Regions from separate parts of the Homo sapiens genome. Here region 1 is linked to region 2. Evidence: fine-mapped expression QTL. A gene starts in region 2. The other region holds a variant in brackets. All regions are shown on one strand. Distances are from middle to middle.

The links. PIP is the estimated chance that this variant, and not a neighbour inherited with it, causes the effect.
Region 1: its variant is fine-mapped to the expression of OAS2 in whole blood (TOPMed, PIP above 0.99).

The regions. Positions count from the first base shown.
Region 1 is chr12:113,005,066-113,010,442 of GRCh38, forward strand. It overlaps OAS2 (2'-5'-oligoadenylate synthetase 2), which reads left to right. Exons shown (of 10, transcript NM_002535.3): 7 at 1-157; 8 at 1,348-1,535; 9 at 2,640-2,878; 10 at 4,022-5,377. The coding sequence ends at 4,190. Among named protein-coding and RNA genes, the nearest start is that of OAS2, 29 kb to the left of the region's middle. RefSeq lists enhancers at 1,069-1,238, 1,671-2,870, 4,617-4,786. The variant C/T (reference allele first, on the strand shown) is at 2,523.
Region 2 is chr12:112,975,348-112,980,724 of GRCh38, forward strand. It overlaps OAS2 (2'-5'-oligoadenylate synthetase 2), which reads left to right and starts at 3,172. Exons shown (of 10, transcript NM_002535.3): 1 at 3,172-3,438. The coding sequence starts at 3,262. RefSeq lists enhancers at 2,717-3,526, 3,747-3,826, 3,997-4,076, 4,187-4,336.

The sequences.
Region 1 (5,377 bases), 30 kb after region 2:
CAGCTGAAAGCCTTTTGGAGGGAGAAGGAGGAGGAGCTTGAAGTCAGCTTTGAGCCTCCCAAGTGGAAGGCTCCCAGGGTGCTGAGCTTCTCTCTGAAATCCAAAGTCCTCAACGAAAGTGTCAGCTTTGATGTGCTTCCTGCCTTTAATGCACTGGGTAAGGCTCCCCAGACCTTAGCTTGGAAGTGATGGTGGACAGAAGGTGGAGGGAGAGCCACGTGACTTGATTACGGGCTCTGAAAACATGTGCCACTCATGGGTCCCTGGCCCCAGCAAGTGGCATTAGTCATGGCAGTAATACTTCACACTTGTAGACAATTTTGGTCCCATTTCTCTTTTCCAAGCATGGGGCTGTGTGCCTATAATCCCAGTAATCAGGGAGACTGAGGCAGGAGAATTGCTTGAACCCGGGAGGTGGAGGTTGCAGTGCGAGATCGTGCCACTGCACTCCAGCCTGGGTAACAGAGTGAGACTCCGTCTGAAAACAAACAAACAAACACACAAACAAAACAAGCAGTTGGGCTGGGCATAGAGGCTCACACCTGTAATCCCAGTATCTTGGGAGGCCGAGGCGGGAAGATTGCTTGATCCAGGAGTTCGAGACCAGCCTGGGCAACATAGTGAGACTTCATCCCAAAAATAAATAAATAAATAAATAAATAAATAATAAACAAAGTTAGCCAGGCATGGTGGCACACGCCTGTAGTCCCAGATACCCAGGAGGCTGAGGTGGGAGGATTGCTTGAGCCCAGGAGATGGAGGCTGCAGTGAGCTGTGATCATGCCACTGCACTCCAGTCTGGGGCAACAGAGCAAAACTCTGTCTCAAAAAAGCAAAAAACAACAACAACAACAAAAAAAAAAAAAAAAAAAAAAAAAAAAAAAAACAAGAAGCAGCGCACCAGATTTAGCCCAGGGGGCGGTAGTTCACAAAGTCCAGATCAGTGTCGTCCCAGAGATCTTTCTGTGATCATGAAAATGTTCTATGTCTGGGTTCTACAACTACTGAGAGCTTGACATGTGGCTACAGCAACTGAGGAACTAAATTTTTAATTTTCATTCCCTTTAATGAATGTGAGTGCAAATGGCCACATTGCTGGTGGCTGCTCTGTTAGTTTAAGTCTAGATAATACTTTAATAATACCAGCTGCACCTGTGTAGACCACATAATTTTTACATATCTCATTATTCTGGAGATGCTCCCTGTGTCTTAGACATCAGTCTTTTAAATATGCTAATACTATTCACAGTAATTTCCAAGAATTAAATCATATTTGTCAAAAATGTTTTGGAATCTGTTACTTACTATGTGTATTAAAGCAGGATGTCAATCTCTCCCTCATGCCAGGTCAGCTGAGTTCTGGCTCCACACCCAGCCCCGAGGTTTATGCAGGGCTCATTGATCTGTATAAATCCTCGGACCTCCCGGGAGGAGAGTTTTCTACCTGTTTCACAGTCCTGCAGCGAAACTTCATTCGCTCCCGGCCCACCAAACTAAAGGATTTAATTCGCCTGGTGAAGCACTGGTACAAAGAGGTAAGGACAGTCTTTGTTCTGACCATGGGGTTATTATTTTTACCAGTAAGCCATGAACATTAAGCCCTGTTGCCCACAATCTCCCATGCTGAGGGCTGAGCCACTTTGGAGAATCTGCCCACTGGATATCTTTACGACGTTCCCATCACTAACCCTATTCATTTGGGTCAGGCGTTGATGGCTTCTGCCCATCAAAGCTGCTACATGTGGTTTACTTTGCCCTCACACTGGCCAAAGAATTCTGCAGGAATCCAAGTGACCTTGCCTACAGAGGGTGGGTGGAAGCTGGGATTCACATGCCCACACATTGCCAATAGGACTTTTCTGCTTCCCGGCGCACATGCTCTCTCTCAGAAGGCAGGTTGAAGCTGTAGGTGGAACCGGGGCTGCATTTTCTATACACCCAGCTCACAGGAGCTTGAACAACTGGTCAGCCCCTGAGCCCCTACTACAAGTGATCCTCAGGCAGGTAACCCCAGATTCATGCACTGTAGGGTGCTGAGCAGCATCCCTAGTCTCTACCCAGTTTCCCCTCACTTGCACACAAAGTAGCTTCTGAACATCCTCATGACAGTAAACATCAAGCACGATATCAGCTCTTCCTGAGATGCCTCCTTTCTGTGTCCAGCTCCCTGAAATGTGAAACCAAGACCAAACTCTGTAGTTTTCATCCCAGAAAATCAGAGAGCTGGCATGGCGTGTCAGAAGACTTGGGGCTGTGGCGTGACCTTGAGTGAGTCACTCCACTTCCCGCAGCTTCAAAGTCTTCATCTAAAATGCAGGTCATGCTGCCTGCATTGTGGGGAAGATTAGGAATGATGTGGGTAAATGCCTGGGCCCATAGCTGGCATGCAGTGGGTTTCTAGTAAACTGTAGCTATGTTATTGTCCTAGGAAGGCATATATGGTCAAAAGCACAACAAAGAAACTCAAATGTGCTGCTGCCAGGTGGACTCCTGTAGGCTGTACAATTTAGACATCCAAGCTG[C/T]AGAGTGTGAGCACACCAGCACGACACTGTGACTCAGTTGCCTTGCTGTGGTCCCTGTGCGGCTCTCACTGAGCTCCTAGGCTAACCAGTTCGTCTGATGTTCCCACTCTTACCTAGTGTGAAAGGAAACTGAAGCCAAAGGGGTCTTTGCCCCCAAAGTATGCCTTGGAGCTGCTCACCATCTATGCCTGGGAGCAGGGGAGTGGAGTGCCGGATTTTGACACTGCAGAAGGTTTCCGGACAGTCCTGGAGCTGGTCACACAATATCAGCAGCTCTGCATCTTCTGGAAGGTCAATTACAACTTTGAAGATGAGACCGTGAGGAAGTTTCTACTGAGCCAGTTGCAGAAAACCAGGTGCCTTCACCCTAGCCCCGTACTTTTCTTAACCTGATTCCCTTGAACACTGTCTCAGCAACCTGGATTTTCCTCTGCTGGGGTCACGATTCATTCCTTGCATGACGGGGGAAAGTGCTAGCCAACAGAACCTGTCACAGTCTCCAGGGATAAAACCTAGCAGGGGCAGGAGAAAATGCTGTTCAGAAAAAATAGAGAAGGAAGGTTCAAGATACCACGTCCCTGAGCTGCTTTCATCTAAGAGGTGTTAGAGTTGGAAGTGTGTCCCTAAGAATTAACGCTATCATTCACGGGCCGATTTATCCTGCAGGGTTTTTATTGGGTTAGGGTTTATCTACTCTTTCAGACCTTCAAGAATAGTAAGAAATCATATCCATCTGCTTAGGGCCACCAGCAAGGGACAAAAACAATGGAAACCAGAGGAAAGGAAAGAGAGAAAATAAAGGAGCGTTGAAAAAGAATAGAGGAGAAGTAAGAGAGAAGGAGACCCCCGGTGGGTTGCCTACCCTGGGTTCTTGGCAACATTGTATTTGATTAAATTATGTATCATATTTTAGCTGACATAGCAAGGAGGAGATATTTAGACTATGCCTTCATTATGCCTTCATGAGTATAGCAATTAACAGCTTTCAAAACGCTTTTGGCAAATACAATTTAATTCTAGGAAGTTGCTTTGGTTTTGGCTTTTGTTTTTGTTTTTGAGACAGAGCCTCACTCTGTCACCCAGGCTGGAGTGCAGTGGCACAATCTCAGCTCACTGCAACCTCTGCCTCCCGGGTTCAAGCTGGTTCTCCTGCCTCAGCCTCCGAAGTAGCTGGGACTACAGGTGCGCACCACCACGCCCAGCTAATTTTTGTATTTTTAGTAGAGATGGGGTTTCTGCATGTTGGCCAGGATGTTCTCGAACTCCTGGCCCTCAAGTGATCCTCCCACTTCAGCCTCCCAAAGTGCTGGGATTACAGGCATGAGCCACTGCACGCGGCCTCTAGAAAGTTACTTTGAACCCTACTAGTAAATTTGAGTTGCTGACATCTAAGCTGTAAGAACACATTGTCTTATTGCTGAAAGTATTATAGGATGGACCCCAAATTCTGAAGTCACTGGGATTTGGAATCTCCTAATGCCTTCTAACCTCTCATTCAGGCCTGTGATCTTGGACCCAGCCGAACCCACAGGTGACGTGGGTGGAGGGGACCGTTGGTGTTGGCATCTTCTGGCAAAAGAAGCAAAGGAATGGTTATCCTCTCCCTGCTTCAAGGATGGGACTGGAAACCCAATACCACCTTGGAAAGTGCCGGTAAAAGTCATCTAAAGGAGGCGTTGTCTGGAAATAGCCCTGTAACAGGCTTGAATCAAAGAACTTCTCCTACTGTAGCAACCTGAAATTAACTCAGACACAAATAAAGGAAACCCAGCTCACAGGAGCTTAAACAGCTGGTCAGCCCCCTAAGCCCCCACTACAAGTGATCCTCAGGCAGGTAACCCCAGATTCATGCACTGTAGGGTGCTGCGCAGCATCCCTAGTCTCTACCCAGTAGATGCCACTAGCCCTCCTCTCCCAGTGACAACCAAAAGTCTTCAGACATTGTCAAACGTTCCCCTGGGTTCACAGATCTTTCTGCCTTTGGCTTTTGGCTCCACCCTCTTTAGCTGTTAATTTGAGTACTTATGGCCCTGAAAGCGGCCACGGTGCCTCCAGATGGCAGGTTTGCAATCCAAGCAGGAAGAAGGAAAAGATACCCAAAGGTCAAGAACACAGTGATTTTATTAGAAGTTTCATCCGCAAATTTTCTTCCATTTCATTGCTCAGAAATGTCATGTGGCTACCTGTAACTTGAAGGTGGCTACAAAGATGACTGTGGACGTGGGTTGCACTGGCCACCCAAGGATGTCTGCCACACCTCTCCAAAGCCCTCCCTACCTACCAAGATATACCTGATATATTCCACCAGGATATCCTCCCTCCAGATATACTTGGTTCTCTCCACCAGGTTCTTTCTTTAAAGCAGGATTTCTCAACTTTGATACTTACTCACATTTGGGGCTAGACAGTTCTTTGTTTGGAGGCTCTCTTGTGCATTGTAGGATGTTGAGCAGCATCTCTGGCCTGTACCCAGTAGATGCCACCCAGTTGTGACAATTAAAAGTGTCTTGAGACTTTATCATGTGTCTTCTGCCCTAGGTGAGAACCCTTGCACTAGAGGAACCCTACACCCCAACCCTGGGGGGAATGTAGGGAAGAGGTGGCCAAGCCAACCGTGGGGTTAGCTCTAATTATTAAGATATGCATTATAAATAAATACCAAAAAATTGTCTCTGGCAATAGTTACCTTCCCAGATACAGGTCCCCCCTTTTTTCCCCTAACTCTTTTAAGCAATGATTGTAACTATTAGGAGACATTGCTCTCCCACGTATGTTTTTCTTTTTAGACAATGCAGACACCAGGAAGTTGTGGAGCTAGGATCCATCCTATTGTCAATGAGATGTTCTCATCCAGA
Region 2 (5,377 bases):
CCTTTACCAAGTCCACGAGGAATGGACCAGGAAGAGAACACCAGCCAGCATCACAGAGAAGCTCAGAAAGCCTCCTCTGCAGGAGATGCCATCACAGGATGGTGGGTGAGGCCCCTTGGGAGCTAGGCTCACTGATAGCAAAAGGGATGGTGGAACCCTGGAGTAAGAGAGGCCAGGAGATGGCACCCATTAGGGGACACAGTGCTCACCATGAGTGGTAGGGCCCAGGATTGGCCAGGAGGGGCTGGCCTGCAGAACATGGAGATGACCCTTAAATCTTGGTGTTCATAGGGACAGACTAGATGGGCCACAAGCAGGCAGCTACTCAACTTACGCCATCAAAATACCTCAAGAATGAACGCCGAGGAAACTTCCCCCAGTAAAAACATCACCATTGCTTTCCTAGTGGGCTTCCCAGGAAACACGTCTGTCACATACGTCAGCTAAATGTCATGTGTGAGCCTAGATGTTGGCGGGGGTGCGGATGCTATAAAGAAGAGTATTGGAATCGTTGGTAAATTTTTCAATATAAGAATGTATTTATGGCTGGATGCAGTGGCTTACACCTATAATTCTACCACTTTGGGAGGCCGAGGCAGGCAGATCACTTGAGCCCAGGAGTTCGAGATCAGCCTGGGCAACATGGTGAGACCCTACCTGTACAAAAAAATACAAAAATTAGTCAGACATGGTGGTGTGTGCCTGTGGTCCCAGCTACTCAGGAAGCTGAGGCAGAAGAATCGCTTGAGCCTGAGAGGTTGAGGCTACAGTGAGCCGAGATTGTGCCACTGCACTCCAGCCTGGGTGACAGTGAGACTCTGTCTGTCTCAAAATATATATTTATACAATATTTATATAATAAACGTATATTTATTATATATGTTATATAAATTATATATTATATAAATTATACAAAATTATATTTATTATATATGTTATGAGATGATAGCATTGTATCAATGATAAAAGTCTGAATTGGACCATTGTTCTGTGCTTCTGTAACACAATATTCTTGCTCTTAGGAGATATAGGTTGAAGCATTTAGGAGTAAAGGGACATAAATCATGCAACATGCATTCAAATGGTTCAGGAATAAAAATACTCATGAAGGGCTGGGCGTGGTGGCTCAGGTCTGTAATCCCAGCACTTTGGGTGGCTGAGGTGGGAAGATCGCTTGAGGCCAGGAGTTCGAGCCCAGCCTGGGCAACATGGTGACATCATGACCCCCATTTCTACCAAAAAATTTTAAAAATTTAGCCAGGCATGGTGGTGCATGCCTATAGTCCCAGCTACTCAGGAGGCTGAAGTAGGAAGATTGCTTGAGCTTGGGAGGGTGAGGCTACAGTGAGCTATAATCACGCCACTGCACTCCAGCCTGGGTGACAGAGTGAGACTCTGTCTCAAAAACAAAACAAAACAAAAACCTCCTAAAATGTATAAATAGCAAGAAAATGAGGGGCAAATGTGGTAAAAAATATAATGGCTAAAAAGTCTAAGGAAGTTCTTTGTGTGCATCTTGTAAATTTTCTCAGCATTTCAAATTACTTCAAAATAAAGTGTTTTTTTAAATAACAAATAAAGCACAGGCTTTGGAGTCAGGCAGTGTGTTAGTGTGAGAACCTAGCCTGACAACTTCCTAGCTGTGTGATCACGGGCAAATGTTTCCACCTTTGTGAGCCTCCATGTTCTCATCTGAAAAAGGAACCTTAGGACTACGCCTGCCCAGCCTGCCTACCTCTCGGTGTTGCAGTAAAAGTTGGATAAGGGCAGGAAAGGCCCTTAATGAGCATGTGCATTAATCGAGGTTTTTCCAGAACTAACAGGGTATTTATATTTATTTTGAGGTATTTATTTTAAGGAATTGGCTCATGTGATTGTGGAGGCTGGCAAATCCAAAATCGGCAGGGTAGACTGGCAGGTGGGAGACCCAGGAAGGAGTTGCTGCTGCAAGTGGAGGCCAAGGCACTGCAGCCGAATTCCCTCTTCCTTGGGGGAGCTCAGTCTTTAGTCTATTAAGGCCTTCAACTGATTGAATCAGGCCCACCACCTTACAGATGATAATCCACTTTACTCAAAAAAAAAGTCTACCAATGTAAATGTTAATCTTATCTTTAAAAAATACCTTCACAAAAAGATCTAGGATAATGTTTGACCAAATATCTGGGTACCTGGGCTCAGCCAACTTGACACATAAAATTAACCATCCCAGTATGGAAGGGCCCTGGTCCCCCACTACATCTTGGAGATTTTTGCCTTCTCTGTGAATTATTATTGCTGGGCCAAGGCAGCTGGCTGGGAGTCCTCTGCGAGTTTTGTTTTCAAAGCTCTGGGCACAGGAGTTGCATGTCTGTCTCCTTTCTGGCTCACACACTTGGGGTGTGTTTTCTTGCCCTTGCGAGGCTGGACAAGTGCCTCATACGGTCCCTCGGCTGTCCACAAGTGTGCTGAGAAACTGGACACACAGAGGTTCCCACCCGCTGACCACACGGGGGCCTGTGTTTACCCAGAAGCAGACCAAAACCTGAGTCCAGCTAGGTCCCTGCTTTGCTGTGTGTCCCTGAGCAAGTCAGTTCCCTCTCTGGGTCTCTTTTTCCTCTCTGCCGCTTTCCCTGAATGTGAGTTCCCTGGCCACTGAGAACAGGGGGAAAGGGACAGAGCCTCAAAAGATGACCTGTGCGCCCCTGCTTCTAAGCACTTTGCAGGTATTATTTAATCATCAAGCTAATCCTACGAGAGAGCTGCCATTTTCCCCCAGCTTACAGATGGGGGAATTGAGGCGCGAAGAGGGCAGGCGATGTGCTCAAGGACAGACATCTAGCAGGTATGAAGCCCTCACAATGGGGTTCTAGAGGCTGTTTAGTTAACCTCAAGTTTTGGGGAGCCCCTGAAGGGCTGGTCACCACGCTGCCGGGGACAGGGAAAGCCTCTGAGCTTGAGTCAGTTTTGGTTTCCCTGCTGGGGTGCAGGAGTCAGTAAACCTTGCTGCAAGGGGCGGGGAAGAGCATTTGAGCTTAAGTTAGTTTTGGTTTCCCTGCCCCGGATGCAGGAGTTGGTAAACTCACTGCAAGGGGCAGGGCAGAGCCTCTGAGCTTAAGTTAGTTTTGTTTCCCTGTCCCGGATACAAGAGTTGGTAAGCTCGCTGCAGTGGGTGGAGAGAGGCCTCTAGACTTCAGTTTCAGTTTCCTGGCTCTGGGCAGCAGCAAGAATTCCTCTGCCTCCCATCCTACCATTCACTGTCTTGCCGGCAGCCAGCTGAGAGCAATGGGAAATGGGGAGTCCCAGCTGTCCTCGGTGCCTGCTCAGAAGCTGGGTTGGTTTATCCAGGAATACCTGAAGCCCTACGAAGAATGTCAGACACTGATCGACGAGATGGTGAACACCATCTGTGACGTCCTGCAGGAACCCGAACAGTTCCCCCTGGTGCAGGGAGTGGCCATAGTGAGTCCAGGGCTGAGGTTGGGTCTCTGGGAGGCAGGAGATTCCACGGCGGCAGCAAGGCCGAGCTACTGGGTGCTGGGTGCCTATTATGTGCGAGGCCCACACTTGGGTGGGATGTGGTGTAGGAGTCTCAGGCTCTGGAGCAGGCGCTTGCTCCAGAGCTGTGTGACACTGGGCAGGCTACTTAACCTCTCTGTGCCTCAGTCTCTGACTCTGTAAAATGGGGAGAGGCATAATACCCACTTCAGAGTATCGTAAGGCTTGAGCACATCATGTTCTTAGCAAAAGACTGGCAGTGCTCAGTGAATTCACTGTGATTACTCACTGCGATTTTCTTCTATCCTCTCCACAGTACAGAGGAGTAAACTTAGGGAGGCTAGAGAACTTTGTTCAAACTACCCAGGTTGCCTTGTGGTTTCTCCGCAGCAAGAAGGAGTGGCTTTTATCAGTTAGAAATATTTGGTTTTGTGGACACAAATCTCAGGACTGAGGCTGAAAATTCTGGACCTCTGGGGAGGAAGGGGGACTGGGGAGATGCCAGGACCCTAGAATTGGGGGCGTGGGGGTCCTGATGGCCCAATACTATCCTCTTAGCCTCCTGAGCTGCTGACGTCCCTTCTCTGCTGCTGCCACACTTTTTGGTCTCTACCCCTTGCACACATCCGCTAGTGCCTCAATAAAGAAATCTAGACACGTGGTGTCCCCAGCCCTGGCCCAGGCCAGCAAGCTAAGGCAAGTTTGGTTAATAGCTATTGTCAGAACTGGGATTTTAAGCCTGGGTAATTGGCTTGAGGGCATGCATGTTTAACCACTACACTATCCTGCCTCTCAATTTTTTTTTCCTCATGGAAGTAAAACAGAAAAAGTGCCCAGATCAAAGTGTCCAGCTTGATAGGTAGCCACAAACAATGTAACTGTGTAACCCCCACCCAGATCCAGAAACAAAACATTCTCAGCCCCCCAGAGCCCTGGGCCCCCGATCCAGTCAGCACCTCCAAACCCAGGTAGGCAATCTCCTGACTTCTAACAGCATAGACACGTTTTGCCTGTTTTTAAACGTTTTACAATTATAGGGTGACCAACTATCCCAGTTCATCCAAGATTGGGGTGTTTCCTGGGATGTGGGACTCTTGGTGTGAAAGCTGGGAATGTAAACCAGGATGCATGGGTGAACCCTACATAAATGGCATCATGGGCTCTGTGTGCTTTAGTGCGTGGTTTCTCTGACCTATGATGTTTATGAAATTTATGTTGTGGGGTACAGTTGTTTATCTTTTCATTGTTGTGTCAATTCCATTATGTGAATATTCCACATTTGTCCATTCTACTGTGTTTTTTTATTTTTACATAATTGTGCATATTTATATGGGGTACATGTGATATTTGGACACATGGATACAATGTGAAATGATCAGGGTAGTTAGGATATCCATCACCTCAAACATTGATCATTTATTTGTGTTGAGAACAGTTCAGATCTTCTCTTCTAACTATTTTGAAATATATAATAAATTATTGTTAACTATAGTCACCCCATTGTGCTATCAAACACTAGAATTTATCCCTTCTATCTAACTGTATGTTTGTATCCATTAACCAACTTCTCTTCATTTCCTCCTCTACTTCCCAGCCTCTGGTAACTATGATCCTACTCTCTACCTCCATGAGATCAACTTTTTTTAACTTCCACATAAACACATGCAATATTGTCTTTCTATGCCTGACTTATTTCATTTAACATAATGACCTCTAGTTCCATGCACATTGCTGCAAATGACAGAATTCCATTCTTTTTGTGTCTGAATAGTATTCTATTGTGTATATATACTACATTGTCTTTATCCATTCAGCTGCTGATGGATACGTTGGTTGATTCCATATCTTGGCTTTTGTGAATAGTGCTGCAATAAACATGAGGGTGCAGTTATCCCTTTTTTGG